Regions from separate parts of the Homo sapiens genome. Here region 1 is linked to region 2. Evidence: fine-mapped expression QTL. A gene starts in region 2. The other region holds a variant in brackets. All regions are shown on one strand. Distances are from middle to middle. Region 1 overlaps COX5A (cytochrome c oxidase subunit 5A). Region 2 holds the start of ULK3 (unc-51 like kinase 3).

What was found. PIP is the estimated chance that this variant, and not a neighbour inherited with it, causes the effect.
Region 1: its variant is fine-mapped to the expression of ULK3 in skin (TwinsUK, PIP 0.95).

The regions. Positions count from the first base shown.
Region 1 is chr15:74,928,782-74,937,102 of GRCh38, forward strand. COX5A (cytochrome c oxidase subunit 5A) reads right to left here. Exons shown (of 5, transcript NM_004255.4): 2 at 335-451. Among named protein-coding and RNA genes, the nearest start is that of COX5A, 5.1 kb to the right of the region's middle. The variant CA/C (reference allele first, on the strand shown) is at 4,627.
Region 2 is chr15:74,839,134-74,847,454 of GRCh38, forward strand. It overlaps ULK3 (unc-51 like kinase 3), which reads right to left and starts at 4,023. Exons shown (of 16, transcript NM_001099436.4): 1 at 3,871-4,023; 2 at 3,147-3,287; 3 at 2,942-3,062; 4 at 2,272-2,376; 5 at 1,365-1,508; 6 at 1,101-1,183; 7 at 425-580; 8 at 135-240. The coding sequence starts at 3,972. It overlaps SCAMP2 (secretory carrier membrane protein 2), which reads right to left. Exons shown (of 9, transcript NM_005697.5): 8 at 6,340-6,460; 9 at 4,597-6,084. The coding sequence ends at 5,950. It overlaps MIR6882 (microRNA 6882), which reads right to left and starts at 1,574; the gene lies at 1,509-1,574. RefSeq lists silencers at 393-540, 3,785-4,504 and enhancers at 3,017-3,542, 3,611-4,522.

The DNA.
Region 1 (8,321 bases), 90 kb after region 2:
AGGAGACACTGGGTAATGCCTAGAAACATTTTTGGTTGTCATGATACGAATGTGTGCATACTGGCTCCTAGCAGGTAGAGGCCAAAGGTGATGCTAAACACCCTACAGTGTAAAGGACAGTCCCCTACAACAAAGAATTATCTGGCCCAAAATGTCAATAGTGCCTGCCTTAAAATCCTGCTTTATAGGTAGCCATAAACTTTCCTAACTGCAAGTTGCATGAAGTAACCAGTTTAAACAACGCATGTTTTCGAAACAGTTGCTCTCAATAAAGGAGCAGAAGCAGTTCATATTTACACACCAAAATAGACAAATATGTTTATGTTCCAATTACCTTTACGCAATTCCCAGGCATCTATATCTGGCTTGTTGAAGTATGTTACCCAGCGAGCATCAAACTCCTCATCTGTCTCCTGTGACCCATGGGAATAGCAGCGAACTGACTGGATAGCTATAATGTGAAAGAACCATAACTTCAATGTACACAAATAGTACTTGATATATTTTGTTCAATGCATTAAATTTTGAGTTGACTATATATGTTGTGGCAGCAAAAATATTGAACAGGTCAAATGAAATACATCGTATACATTGATACAGAAAGATATATTTTAAATTAAGCAAATAAAATCAAGTAGAACAAAAAGTATTACATAGGCATGTTTATACTTTTCTCCCTAATGTATAATACTCGCTTGAAATTATTAACAGTGGTTCCCTCTGATTTTAAATTAACAGTGATTATCATGGGACGTAAAAACTACTTTATATACTTCCATATTGTTTGAATTTTTACACATAACCAGAGTATTAATTCCTAAGTAAAAATGTCCCAGGTGGGCATAGTGGGGCACACACCTGTAGTGCCAGCTACTCAGAGGCTGAGGCAGGAAGATTACCCGAGCCCAGGAGTTCAAGGTCGTAGGGTGCTAACAATATGACAGAACCTGATAAGATAGCCATTGCATTCCAGCCTGGGCAACACAGCGACACCCCACTTCTAAAAACTAAGAATAGGCCAGGCGCAGTGGCTCACGCCTGTAATCCCAGCACTTTGGGAGGCCGAGGCAGGCGGATCACGAGGTCAGGAGATCAAGACCATCCTGGCTAACACGGTGAAACCCCGTCTCTACTAAAAATACAAAAAATTAGCCAGGTGTGGTGGCGGGCGGCTGTAGTCCCAGCTACTCGGGAGGCTGAGGCAGGAGAATGGCGTGAACCTGGACGGCGGAGGTTGCAGTGAGCTGAGATCACACCACTGCACTCCAGCCTGGGCGACAGAGCAAGACTCCAACTCAAAAAACAAACAAACAAACAAAAACAAAAACAAAAACAAAAACTAAAAAACTAAGACTAGGCCGGGCGCAGTGGCTCACGCCTGTAATCCCAGCACTTTGGGAGGCTGAGGCGGGTGGATCAAGAGGTCAAGAGATCAAGGCCATCCTGGCCAACATGGTGAAACCCCATCTCTACTAAAAGTATAAAAATTAGCTGGGTGTGGTGGCGCGTGCCTGTAGTCCCAGCAACTCGGGAGGATGAAGCAGGGGAATTGCTTGAACCCAGGAGGCGGAGGTTGCAGTGAGCCAAGATTGTGCCACTGCACTCCAGCCTGGCGACAGAGCGAGACTCCGCCTCAAAAAAAAAAAAAAAGACAATAAACAACAACAACAAAAAAAACCAAAAAAGCAACAAAAAAAAAAAACTAAGAGCAATACTAATGTCCATTCAAGTTCTTTTTTTTGAGACAGGCTCTCGCTCTGTTGTTGCCTAGGCTGGAGTGTAGTGGCGCAATCACAGCTCACTGCAGCCTCAAATTCTTTGGGCTCAAGCATTCCTTCCTCCCTTGGCTCCCAAAGTGCTGGGATTACAGGTGTGAGCCACCAGCCCTGGCACCATTCAAGTTCTTAAATAAACTTATATACTTCATTCACACATTAAAAAAAAAAAAATCTCGGGCCGGGCTTGGTGGCTCACGCCTGTAATCCCAGCACTTTGGGAGGCCGAGATGGGCAGATCACCAGGTCAGGATATCGAAACCATCCTGGCTAACACGGTGAAACCCCGTCTCTACTAAAAATACAAAAAATTAGCCAGGTGTGGTGGCGGGCGCCTGTGGTCCCACCTAGTTGGGAGGCTGAGGCAGGAGAATGGCGTGAACCCAGGAGGCGGAGCTTGCAGTGAGCAGAGATCACGCCACTGCACTCCAGCCTGGGCAACAGAGCGAGACTCTGTCTCAAAAAAAAAAAAAAAAAAAAAAAAAAAAAATTCTCATGTTATTATATTCCAAAATAAATTACACATCCTGACAAATTACACATACAAATTGCTTTATCAAACTACAGCCCCTTCCCAAAATATTCTGATAAATCCCCTAAGGGAACGTACACTCTAATCTACACCTAATGCAAAATAATACTGTTTTACTAGGAATATTTTGGGCTGGGCGCAGTGGCTCACACCTGTAATGCCAGCACTTTGGGAGGCTGAGACTGGTGGATCACCTGAGTTCAGGAGTTTGTGACCAGCCTGATCAACATTGTGAAACTCCGTCTCTACTAAAAATACAAAAATTAGCTGGGCGTGATGACGGGCGCCTGTAATCTCAGCTACGCGAGAGACTGAGGCAGGAGAATCACTCGAACCCAGGAGGCGGAGGTTGAGGTGAGGTGAGATGATGCCATTGTACTCCAGCCTGGGCGACACAGCAAGACTCTGTCTCAAAGAAAAAAAGAAATGATGTTTACATAGAGTACTGTATGAAAAGCATTTCCATTTTTTTTTTTTTTTTTTGAGATCGAGTCTCACTCTGTCACCCAGGCTGAAATGCAGTGGAACAATCTCAGCTCACTGCAACCTCTGCCTCCTGGATTCAAGTGATTCTCCTGCCTCAGCCTTCTGAGTAGCTGAGACTACAGGCGAGCGCCACTAAGCTTGGCTAAGTTTTGTATTTTGAGTAGAGACGGGATTTCACCACATTGCCCAGGCTGGTCTCGAACTCCTGACCTCCAGTGATCTGCCCACCTCAGCCTCCCAAAGTGCTGGGATTACAGACGCGAGCCACTGCACCCAGCCCCATTTTTTCTTTCTTCTTGTCAAATGGACACTGAATTGAGTTTGGAAATCTGAATTCCTTCTGAACAGCCTCTGGAACAGGTAGGGGGATAGGCGGAGGCAGAAAATTTTATCTTTGGGTATTGAATGCAGCACAACCTAGCACTCAGATACCTCTAGGCTCTTCGCTCTCTCTGTTTGACCCTGGAAAATTAACTTAAGTTTATTTTCCTTATCTGTAAAATGGGGACGCTACCCCCCTTAGCAGATTATGAAGATTAAATGTGAAAACAGGTAGGTTAACACTATGCACTGGTAAGTATTAAACAAATGGTAGCTATAAACTAACCCTTATCTAAAAACGTCTTAGTTGTCTATTTATAGAAATCATAACTTAAAGAAATGAAACCTATCTCAAATCACATTTCCTACTACCTGTATTAGATAAGTGTGGTGTAACTTCCAGTTGTTTAAGGCTTAACATATTTTTATTTATTTACTTTTAGAGATGGGGGTCTTGATATGTTGCCCAGGGTGGTCTTAAACTCCTAGCCTCAAGCAATCCTACCACTCCCAAAATACTAGAATTACAGGTGTGAGCCACCATGCCCAGCCTTAACATACATATATATATATTTTTAAAAACTTCACCCAGAAACCTCTCAACATTGTTGTTCTAAGAACACTGAAATTTAAACATTAGTAATATCCTATATATCTTTAATGCAGTAACTGGCAGGAGGAAGAGTAGCAAAAAAACGAAGCAGAAAAGATCTTCCCAGAGACCTAAATTACCTACATAATCCAAGCCCAGAATGAAGTGGAACATGTACATAAATGGACTAGAAGTGAACACGTTTTAATTTCTTTTTTTTTTTTTTTGAGACAGAGTCTCACCCTGTCGCCCAGGCTGGAGTGCAATGGCACGATTTCGGCTCACTGCAACCTCCACCTCCCGGGTTCAAGTGATTCTCCTGCCTTAGCCTCCCAAGTAGCTGGGATTACAGGCATGCGCCACCATGTCAGGCTAATTTTTTGTATCTTTAGTAGACACAAAGTTTCACCATGTTAGTCAGGCTGGTCTCGAACTCTTGACCTCATGATCTGCCTGCCTCGGCCTCCCAAAGTGCTGGGATAACAGGCATGAGCCACGGTGCCCAGCCTTAATTTCTACAACAAGAAAAAAATGGATCTCTACACCTAAATATGTCTGGTAAGTATGAACATTTAATCAAAACTACGTGGATATTTAATAAGTCTTACAAGACTAATATTCAAATTTAATATATCAGAAAACAAGGCCAGGTGCGGTGGCTCACACCTGTAATCCCAGCACTTTGGGAGGCTGAGGCAGGCAGATCACTTGAGGCCAGGAGTTCAAGACCAGCCTGGCCAACATGGTGAAACCCTGTCTCTACTAAAATACAAAAAATTAGCCAGGCGTGGTGGCACACCCCTGTAGTCCCAGCTACTTGGAATGCTGAAGGAGGAGAATAGCTTGAACCCAGGGAGGTTGCAGTGAGCCAAGATCGTGCCACTGCATTCCAGCCTGGGCGACAGAGCAAGACTCCGTCT[CA/C]AAAAAAAAAATATCTATCTATCTATCTATCTATCTATCTATCTATCTATCTATCTATGTAAAAACATAGATTAGAACAACCATCTAATGCACTATTATCAAGAACTTAGGGCCAGATGCAGTGGCACTAGCCTCGGAGACAGAGTGAGACCCTGTCTCAAAAAAGAAAAAATTATAAGCCACCTCTTCAAAAACTAAAGCTAGCCTTAACTGAATACTGAAAGTGCAAGTATAAAATGATACAATCACTTTGGAAGACGGTTTAAGCAGTTTCTTATCAAGTTAAACACAAACCTACCATATAACACAGTAATTCCACTCCTAAGTATTTACCCAATGAAAGGTCTATGTACTCCTTCCCCAGAGGTAATTACCTGTCCCATCCACAACAGTGCTTCATGATAAGCAATTCGTTTTGTTCACTGCTGGGCATGGATTTGACTACATGAGTGCTAGGCTTTGTTTCCTAACTGTGAATAAGATGACCACCAACAGCAAATCCAAGTCAAGGAGATCACCACCTTCAAGGATTTGATCATATGTCTTCTGGAAGCCAAATTACAAACTGGTTGTATTCCAAAAAGTCTTTTATAAAACAGAACTAGAACTTTGAGAGGCCAAGGCAGGATCGCTTGATGCCAGGACTGAGAGACCAGCTTGGGCAACAAAGACAGACCTCCATTCTCCACAAAAAACTTAAAAAATTAGCGGGGTTTGGTGGTCCCAGCTACTCAGGAGGCTGAGGCGGGAGGATCCCTTGAGCCCAGGGCAACAAGGCTGCAGTGAGCTATGACTGCGCCACTGCACTCTAGCCTAGGTGATAGAGCAACACTCTATATCAAACAAATTAAAATAAATAAAAATTTAAAAACCCATACATCCCTTTCTGAAGGGCTAAAACAGACTCTCCCCACGTGATTTAAATTTTTTTTTTTTTTTTGAGATGGAGTCTCACTCTGTCGCCCAGGCGGGAGTGCAGTGGCGCAATCTCAGCTCACTGCAAGCTCCGCCTCCCAGGTTCACGCCATTCTCCTATCTCAGCCTTCCCAGCAGCTGGGACTACAGGCACTCGCCACCACGCCCGGCTAATTTTTTTGTATTTTTAGTAGAGACGGGGTTTCACCGCGTTAGCCAGGATGGTCTCGATCTCCTGACATTGTGATCCGCCCGCCTCAGCCTACCAAAGTGCTGGGATTACAGGCGTGAGCCACCATGCCCGGCCATGATTTAAATTATATTGTTAAATCCAATAATGGGTAAAGCAGGATCTATTCTATTAGCTATGGACACATCCCCCACATGCTTAACTTTTTTTAGGTAAACTCTACTAGCATTCTCTGCCCCACACACCCCACCCCACTTAAGAACAGGATCTCCACCTAGTATTGAAGCTTGAAAGGCAAATTATTTTGGAAAACAATTACTCAGAGCTTTTACGTAACCTGAAAGTCCCAAAGTAAGAAAAAAGAAGCAGCTGTGAAAAATGAGGACATTTTTAGGGCTTCATCCTAAAAAGCTATTTCTAACACTGCTTTTTGGCATTCAGTTAAGCACTCCATTTAAAAACAAAAAAGGCTAACATATATAGAAAAATAAAAGGGCTCATTGATCCTTTGGGTTTAAATTTAGTTAAATCGGATAGTTTTCCATTTAATAAATAATCAACCCTGACAGGCCCAAAGAATGAACACTTTGGTGGTGGTAACTGTAGGAATGAGGGCACATTAACGAGTTACTGAGGCTGGGTGCAGTGGCTCTCGCTTGTAATCCCAGCACTTTGGGAGGCTGAGGTGGAAGGATGGCTTGAGCCCAGGAGGTTAAGGCTGCAGTGAGCTGTGCCAACTGCACTGCAGCCTGCATGACAGAGCGAGACCCTGTCTCAAAAACAAAAACAAAAACAAAACAAAACCACAACAACAGAAGAAGAAAAAGAAAAATTTGGCTGGGCATGGTGGCTCACACCTGTAATCCCAGCACTTTGGAAGGTGGGAGGAGGGAGGCACTCCTGAGCCCAGGAGTCCCCAGACCAGCCTGTTTCTACGGAAAATAAAACTGGTGGCGCACCCTTGTGGTCCCAGCTACTTGGAAGGTGGAGGCAGGAGGATCAGTTGAGTCCCAGGAGGTCAAGGCTGCAGTGAGCTGTGATGGTGCCACTGCACTCCAGCCTAGGCAACACAGTGAGACTATCACCAAAAAAAAAAAATAAATAAATAAATAAATAAAAAATTTTTTTTTTGAGATGGCATGATTTCGGCTCACTGCAAACCTCTGCCTCCCGGGTTCAAGCAATTCTAATGCCTCAGCCTCCCAAGAAGCTGGGACCACGTGTGCGTGCCACCACACCCGGCTAATTTTTGTATTTTTAGTAGATACTGGGTTTCGCCATGTTCAGGCTGGTCTGGAACTTCTGATCTCAGGTAATCTACCCGCCACAACCTCCCAAAGTGCTGGGATTACAGGCGTGAGCCACCGTGTCCGGCTGAAAAATGTAAATTGTACTGTTACTTTAGCAAAACACAAAATCTAAACAAACATCAGGATGGCCCAAACATAACTATAAGAAACAAAAATGGTTCCACCATTAAAAAGGAGTCAGTTTCGGCCAGGTGTGGTGTCTCACGCCTGTAATCCCAGCACTTTGGGAGGCTGAGGCAGACGGATCACCTGACCTCACGAGCTCGAAACCAGCATGGCCAACATGGTGAAACCCCATCTCTACTAAAAACACAAAAAGTAGCCGGGCATGGTGGCAGGTGCCTGTAACCCCAGCTACTCCGGAGGCTGAGGCAGGAGAATCGCTTGAGCCAAGACCGTGCTATTGCACTCCAGCCTGGGCAACAAGAACGAAACTCTGTCTCAAGAAAAAACAAAACAAAACAAAACAAAACAAAAACAAACAAACAAACAAAAAAAAACAAGGAGTCAGTTTCCCAAGATGGACTTTGGTTTCCTTTTCTATAAAATAAAATGGCTTCCACGATCTCTAAAGTACACTCTAGGTTGGCTGCAGTGGCTCATGCCTATAATCCCAAACTTTGGGAGGCTGAGGTGGGAGGATCACCTGAGCCCAGGAGTTCAAGCCCAGCCTGGGCAACATAGGGACACTCCGTCTCTAATTTAAAAATAAATAAATAAACAAAAATAAAGTACCCTCCAGCCTTATGGTTCTACGACAAATGATAAAAGTCTAAAATGAATGAAGCAAAACATATTCTTTTTTTTTTTTTTTTTTTTTTGAGACGGAGTCTCGCTCTGTCGGCCAGGCTGGAGTGCAATGGCGCGATTTCGGCTCACTGCAACCTCCGCCTCTCAGGTTCAAGCGATTCTTGTGCTTCAGCCTCCCGAGTAGCTGGGATTACAGGCGCCCACCACCACACCCAGCTAAATTTTTTGTATTTTTAGTACAGACAGGGTTTCACCATGTTGGCCAGGCTGGTCTTGAACTCCTGACCTCAGGTGATCCGCCCGCCTCGGCCTACCAAAGTGCTGGGATTACAGGCATGAGCCACCGCGCCCGGCTGAGTTCTTTTTTTAATTTTTAACTTCAGCATACCCTGAAACGAGTTTCTGAGTTCTTATGTTTAAATACGCATGCATAGTTGCCAGTGATGCAGGTTCAAAAATAAAATATAATATGCATGCATAGAAGCTAAATTTCACGGACCAAGATCGAAGTGCAATTACTGTAATTATT
Region 2 (8,321 bases):
ATATTCCAGGTTTACGCTCTGCTTTATCGCCTACAAAATTCTAGATAGAGAACTTCTGGAATCCACCTACTGCAGCCACAGATGACTCCCATCCCTGCTGCACCCACGGGCTTCAGGCATGGCCTGGGACTCACAGTGCAGGGCAGGTACAAAGAAGTCCAGAGCCTTGCAGTAGAGTGATAAGGCAGCTGCTGAATCCCCCTCCTGGTCTTTCTTCACAGCCTGCACCACCAGGGCGGTCTGGGGATGGGCAGATCAGGGGTCAGGTCCACCTCCCTACCCTCCCACACTCACCAAGATGGGAGATCAGCTCCCCTGAGCCCGCCCTCTGTCTCTGTTGGGTGAGTCACCAATTCACCACCAACGGGGGCAAGGAGACCTCCAGCCCACCCTCAGCCCACCCCAGCCCCAGCCGTCTGCTCACTGCTCGCCCCAGACTCTCCCCACTGGGCATGTGCTCCAGGTCCACCCAGGGGTGCGCAAAAAAGTCCTGGAAGGAGATGCGACGGCTGGGGTCCCGCTCCAGGAGCCGCTGCAGTAGGTCCCGGCAGTCTCGGGAGAGCAGGGGCCGCAAGGGGAGCTGCAGGGAAGGGAACGGCAGGGACAGATCACACTGGGCTCCTCCACCCCTACCCCTAGCCCAGGGGTCTGCGAGGAACCCCAGAGGTACGCGTTGGACAGGTGGGGAATCTGAGACCGAGGAGGAACAGGATGGGTCAGGATGATGGAGCCAGCGGGGAGCGAGGCCTCCATCCCTGGGCTCCCGGTGCACCCTCGCTGGAGCCCTGAGCTGAGCTAGAATCGTGTTTCTGGGTCCTTATTTCCCTCCCTGGACTATGCTCCTAGGAAGGCTGGGCCTGGCTCTGCTTTGCATTCTCCCCACAAGGGCCTGCAAAATGGGCACTGTGCTGCCAGCTGTGGGCTGACCTGAGGCCCTGGGACAGCCTGGCACCTCGACTTCCAGCCTAGAACCTGCCCCTCCACCACAAAGGCAGCCTGGAGCCCATACTCCAGTCTCTGCAGGTCAGAACGAGGTCTAAACCCTCAGGGCCCTGACTCCCTCTGCCCCCCAGTGGTCGCTAAGGCCCTGCTAGACACACCTCGATGACCCGGTTGCTACGGATCTTCTCTTCCAGCTCCGAGAACGACCTGGAGGCAAAGGGGGGCTGCCCGAAGAGGGCTTCTGTGGAAGGGAGGCAGAGCGGAGGCTGGGAGGGAATGGGTCAAGCCTGGCCTGACGCCCCTCAGCAGGGGCCCTGGGCCAGCAGTCAGTTTTCATCAGAACCCTTCAGAAGTGGCCCAGAGAGGCCTTGCCTGAGGAAACTGTAGGCCTCAGGGTGAGAAGCAGGGAAAAGAGGTCTCACCATACAGGATGACCCCCATGGACCAGAGGTCCACGCGGGCGTCATACTGCCGCTGGCACACCATCTCGGGGGCCATGTAGAGGGGGGAGCCACGGAGCACGTGCTTCTCATCCCACGGGGACATGTGTTGTGCGAAACCAAAGTCTGCAGGCAAGAGGAGAGGCAGCAGGGCTTGAATTCCAGCTGCTTCAGCTCCTGACTTGTAAAGCCTCACCCCAGGCTCCTCTCCACCCTCCAGACCCGCCAGGATCAACCCTATTTCCAAGCCTCTGCTCATCATTAGGCTGGAACACCCTCCTATATCTGCCTCTGGGGTATAAAACCTACCCATCCTTCCCAGCTCCCTTGGGCACCTTTTCCTAGGAAGCCCACCTGATCACACCAGCTACCTGCATAAGCCCCCACCCTCTCACTGTCCCCCCAGGCTTAGGTTCTATCACAGTCTCTGGCCTCCAGTGTCAATTATCCAAATCTTATCAAGGGTCACCACCTCCTACTCCCCCACCACACCCCTCCTATGTGGCCACAGATGGAGTCACAGACTTGAGCCCCAATTCTGATGACAGACCAAGTCCTGTCCCTGCCCACAGAGGGATCCCTGATGCTTGTCACACGCTGAACCCTGGCACTGTTCCCAGATTGACCCCTAAACCTGGACACACAGTGAGTCCCAACTCTGGCCACAGACTGAGCCCTAACTCCACCCATTATGCTGCTGGACTTGAGCATGGGTAGCCTGAGAAAGCTTCCACCTTTTGATGACAGGGCCCAACCCCAGACTTCACGGCCTGTCACTCTTTGAGGACTCTATAGAGGGCTCCATAAGAACCAGGGCTGCTGAGTGAGCCCAGGCAGAGGGAGGCCTCTGCACTCTCCAAACCTCATCCCTGCTGTTTCAGACACAGACCTGCCAGTTTTAGGTGGGGCTTCTCCAAGGAGCTCAGTAGAATGTTCTGTGGCTTCAGATCCAGGTGAGAGATATTCCGTTCATGCAGGAATTGCAGGGCGCTAGCTGAGGAGCAGGACCCACGAAGAGAGACAGTTCAGAGCCCATTCCCGCCTGCCTCTCGCCTCCCCGGCTCACATCTGCCTCCTCAAGCCTGCACAACCCCAGTTCCTGCCTGGCTGGTCTAATGTTTTCCATATAAGCACCAAGATCACACCACTTCTAGGAGTTTGCCACCCCACCCGAGTGCCCACCCTCCTTCCCTCTGCCCCTTCACAAGTCTCCCCACCTCTCAGAAGCTTCTCTGGATGCCCCAGCCCTTGAGATCCTGCTCTTTTCCTTGGCACAGCACTTGAGTCCTACCTACAGGACTCTGGAATGTTCTACAAGGTCCTTATATTATGTTCTATGTATGGAAGCCTGAACACCCCACAGAGGGGTTACCCCCTCATCTCTCCCACAGCGTCCTTGAGCAAGGGTTGAGTGTATGAGATAAACAGGACCATAAAATTTCAGGCTGTGCAGGAGGCAGCTGCAATGCGTGCCAAGGCTCTAAGCCTGGGGGAGGGGTGGGATGGTGGGGGGCAGAGAACAAGGGACAGAGTGTCAGGCTGGTGTCACAGGCCTTTACCTAATTGCTGCATGAAGACACGCGCCACCTTCTCAGGCAGAATCCTGCGGGTATGGATGAAGCGAGACAGGTCGCCCCCTGCGCAAAACTCCATGATGAGGTAGATATTGTCACTGTCCCACTGTGTTTAGAGGCAGAGAGGCGGCCTGAAGAGAGTGTCCCTTCTCCAGCTCCCTTTGGCAGCGGCCCCGCCCCAGGCTCACACCTGAAAGTCTTTCAGCTGCACAATGTGGGGATGTCGAATGCCCTTGAGGATCTCAATCTCCGTGAGGAGGTTCTCCACCGATGCCTTGTTCAGACTTTTCTTGGCTACACACTTTATGGCTACCACTTCACGAGTGTCCTTCTGCGAGACAGGAGATTTGGGGACTCTGCCTTGAGGGGGCCAGGACCCTTGTCTGACTGGAAAGGCTCTATCTGGTTCCCTCTGTTCCCCCACCCCGCCCCTCCCCGGGTCTACCTACTGCACACCAGCACCGGGCTTCCCAGCTTTCCCTTGTGAGGCCAGTGAGGAATGCTGATTCTGGAATCCTGGCTTCCCGACACAGCCTCAGCCTGGTCTTCTCCAACCCTCGGCTAGCTGATCCATTTCTTTGCATTCTGGAGTGCTCCCGGCAGAGGCATGTCACTCAGGGTTCTAGAACCGCCCACTCTGCCTCCCAACTGGCTCCAGTCCCAGACTCCTCCCAGCCCACCAGGTAACCTGTTTTGAGCCTGTTCTTCAGCCACTGACCCTGCAGGTGGGTGCAGGTGCGCTCTTTAAGACCTAAGCGTGGCAGTCGGCTCCAACCTCCGCCGAGGGTCAGCTGGGGCGAGGCCGGCCTCCCGCCCCTAACTATTCCCACACTGTCGCTAACCTCTCAGAGTCTCCCCGGCCGGCACCAGCCGAGCTAGCTCGGGCGGGCACGGGGCCATCGGCCGGCACCCACCTTGGCGTAGGCCTTGTACACCGTGGCGTACGTGCCGCTGCCCAGGCGCTCGGTGAGGATGAAGCCGTCCAGGCGCGGGGGACCCCAGCCGGGCCCCGCCATTCCGGCCGCCTGCGCCCGCGCGGGCGCTTCCTCGCTGCGGGCGGCGGTTCCGGCGGGTTGCGGGGCGGGCCGAGCACTGGGTGGCTCCACGCTGCCCCCAGCGCCGCCCGCCGGAAATGCAGCGCGCATCGGGGACGCGGATCCGCCCGGCTCCCGGCGCCCCTCCCCTGTCTCTGGGCCTCGCCGGGTCACGCGCCCCGCCAGTTCCTGCAGGGCCCACGTGGGGATACGGAGGCCCCGCGAGCCTAGAAGTTAACAACGGAGGACGGCCGGCGTGGTCTCCGGGGACTCCTAGCGGGCGCAGAGGCGTCTAGAGATCGCCCACGTGAGGGCGCGGGCGGCGGAGCGGGCGTGTGTGGGGGCGACGGCGTCCGGGAGGCTCCCAGGGCCCCTCCCCAGGACCCGCAGCTCTGAAAGGAGAGCTACTGGCACGAGAAGGCGCCTTTGGAAGAGGCCGCGTTGGCTTCCCAGGCCTCCCAGCTGCTTTTCACTTTTCTGAGGAAGGGCCTTGACCTATTTATTGCATCTTAACTGTCCCCGCTCTCCAATCTTAGCAGCGGCGCCCAGCCCCTAATCCTGTGGGCTGCCCCGTCCTCCCAAGTCCACCAGACATGTGGACCCGTGTTGTCTGAAAATGTTTTTATTTTTACTTAAGCACAAAAATTGAGACGTAACATATACATTTGTACATAGAGGGGAAAAAATACCAGAAAGGAGTTCATAAAACCCCAGCCGCTGCCAGTATCATTCAGTGGCTGGGGCCTGCGGCTGTCTCGGGCCCAGAGCCGGAGGCTAGTTTTGTGGGAAGGCACCCCAGTCCACACACCCACTCGGCAGCCTCGAGGGACAGGGTGCTGGTTTTAAGGGTGGACTCCTACGTGTCCCATCACAGTGACACACCCCCCAGGGTGTGAACCAGACTCCACTGGGTATTAGGGGGCCCTCCGAGAGATGGCTTATCAGTCCCTGCTGAGGGATGCGGTTCTGGACTGGCTGGCCCTGCCCTTCCTGAAAGTCTGGATGCTGCTGATGGGGAGCATGGGCGGGGCAGGTGGCATCTGAGGCAGAGACAAAGGCAGCCGTCCCTCGGTTCGGGGAGGGGGGGGGGTAGTCACAGCAAACAGGGCCAAACCAACCACACCAGGACAGGCAGACCCCACCCTCCTAGAAGACGCTGGACGCTAGGCAGGACAGCTTGGGGTCAGTGTCCTTGGTCCCTTCCAGTCCCCAAATCCCAACCAACGGCATTGTACATTCAGAAAGTCTGAAGAGAGTAAGGCTCAGCAAGGGGAGGGCTCCAGAGGGCTCAAAGTGCCATCCCCTGCAGGAGGGTGCAGGGGGATAAAGGGCTATTAATCCGTTTCTCAGGAACACGAGGCAGGGAAGAGCTTAAGGCAACCAGCCTTCTCTGGATCCGTTTATGAGGCAGAGAAGAGCTTGAGGCAACCAGCCTTCTCTGGAAGCCTGGAGACCACTGGAGTGACCTGGGGAACAGATCTGTCCACCAGAACCTGTGAGAGGCTTATTCCCAGCCCAGGCAGGAAGGACTGGGCTGTGTCTAAGAAGCCAGATTCAGGCCAGGCCTGCAGGGTGGGGGAGTCAAGGCCCAGGACCCTGGCAGAAAGCTCCAGCTGGGATGGGCCCAGGTCAGCCTGTGATCCCAACTGTGTGGGGGTGTCTGTGTGTGCACAGGACGAAGAGAACTTCAGTCCCACTGCTTCCAGAGACAAAAGAATCCTACCAAACCATCACCAGAGAAGGAAAGAGAGCTTTGTTTTTTTTTGTACATAGAGGGGGAAAAAATTCCCTGTCCCTCCCGTTCCAGGGAGAGCTGGTCGCTGAGGGAGGAGGAAGAGCCACGGCAAGAACCCTGCCAGGTCTGTGCTGGGCACAACCACCACCACATAAGGCACCCACGGAAAGTGCAGCTCAGAAGGCAGGCGAGAGAAAGGCTGAGGGGGAGAGAAGAGAGGAGGACTAATTCCCCTGGAAGGCTCCTTGGGCAGCAGATGAAGCAGCTCTGTGGAAGGTTCTGCTGCTGAAGATGCCCTGGGAAAACTCCTCCTGGGCCTGCTGGAAGCTGGCCCCTGTCCGTCGGTAGAGGGAGTGCACCTGGCGAAGAGGGGTGGGGTGAGAGAAGCCTGTCCTTTGGGCCCACCAGGAAGCCAGCCATCCAGGTTATACTCCCAAAGGGGTCACCAGAAGCCTGGCACTGCCTGACCCCCCACCCAGATCCCTGGAGAAAGGTACTGGACCTTTGGGGGCCTAGGATGCCCAACTGCAGTGGTGAAAAACATCTCGTGGCAAGGGCAGGAAACGGTTGCCTGCCTCCTCCCATTTGCTGTCAGCCCTGCCCACACCACTCACCCGCTGCAGGAGGAAGACTGAGAGCACGGCACAGAGGGTGAAGAAGCCAGCCACCACCATCATGATGACTGATATGGCCAGGGAATGATTATCCAGTGTAGACAGGGCTGCAATCCAACCGCTATAAAGGGAAGAAGAGGCCAGAGGGAGCAAAGTGGGAGTGGGCTCCAAAAGTCAGCATAAGGGGCTCTTCTCCAAGTGGCTGCTGTGTCCTGACCATCACCTTGGCATCTCCCCACAGCACAGGGAGCCCTGTGAGCCAGAAGCCCTTGGCCTGTGAGGCCAGACCTCCGTGAAGGCTGACAGGCCCACACTACCCCATTCACAAGGGGAATCTTCTGGTTATGTGAGGTCTGAAAGGGAGGATGTGGTTGCTGCCTTCACAGAGTCAGAAGTAGCACCGGGCTGGGTGCTATGGCTCTCACCTGTAATCCCAGCACTTTGGGAGGCTGAGGCAGGAGGATCGCTTGAGCCCAAGAGTTCAAGACCAACCTGGGCAACAGAGGGAGGCCCTGTCTCCATAAAAAATAAAAAAAGGCCAGGTTCGTGCCTGTAATCCCAGCACTTTGGGAGGCCAAGGAAGGCAGATCACTTGAGGTCAGGAGTTTGAGACCAGCCTGGCCAACATGGAGAAACCTTGCTCTACTAAAAATACAAAAATTAGCTGCGCGTGGTTGCACACGCCTGCAATCCCAGCTACTCGGGAGACTGAGGCAGGAGAATCACTTGAACCTGGAAGGTGCAGGCTGCAGTGAGCCGAGATCATGCCATTGTACTCCAGCCTAGGTGACAGGGCGAGACTCCAACTCAAAAAAAAAAAAAATTAGCTGGCTGTGGTCATACATGCCTATGCTCCCAGCTACTTGGGATGCTGAGGTAGGAGGATCACTTGAGCCCGTGAGGTTCAAGGCTGCAGTGAGCTGTGATCACGCCACGGCACTCCAGCCTGAGCAACAGAGTGAGACCCTGTCTCCAAAAAAAAAAAAAAAAGAAAAGAAAAAAGAAAAAGGGCTGGGCACAGTGGCTCAAGCCCGTAATCCCAACACTTTGGGAGGCCAAGATGGGCGGATCACGAGGTCAGCAGATCGAGACCATCCTGGCTAACACAGTGAAACCCCATCTCTACTAAAAATACAAAAAATGAGCCAGGCATGGTGGCAGGCACCTACATAGTCCCAGTTACTCGGGAGGCTGAGGCAGGAGAATGGCGTGAACCTGGGAGGCGGAGCTTGCAGTGAGCAGAGATCGCGGCACTGCACTCCAGTCTGGGCAACAGAGACTCCATCTCAAAAAATAATTAATTAAAAAGGTAGCACTGGGCCGGGCCTTTTTCTGCTGCTTTGGGGGTGGGGAGTATGGAAAGCGTGGCTGCTCACTCCTGAGGACCCACCTTCTGTGAAGGAGGATCACTGGCCAACTTGCTGTCACCTGTCTGAGCCCCATGTCCTCATCTGTAAAAGGGATATCCTCATATTTCTTGACATCAAAACTTACTACAAAGCTACAGTCACTAAAATAGTGTAGGACTGGCATAAACATAGACATATAGATCAATAGATCAATGGAATAGAACTGAGATTCCAGAAATAAACCCATACACCTATTGTCAGTTAATTTTTTTTTTTTTTTTTTTTTTTGAGATTGAGTCTTGCTCTGTAGCCCAGGCTGGAGAACAGTGGTGTGATCCCGGCTCACTGCAACCTCCACCTCCCGGGTTCAAGTGATTCTTCTGCCTCAGCCTCCCAAGTAGCTGGGATTATAGGCACCTACCAATGCGCCTGGCCAATTTTTGTACTCTCTAGAAACAAGGTTTTGCCATGTTGGCCAGGCTGGTCTCAAACTCCTTCCTGACCTCAGGTGATCCACCCGCCTTGGCCTCCCAAAGTGCTGGGATTACAGGCATGAGCCACCGCACCCAGCCAACTCAAGCCTTCTGATTCCCAGTACAGGTGCAAACGGCAGTCATGAATCACAGCTTTTCT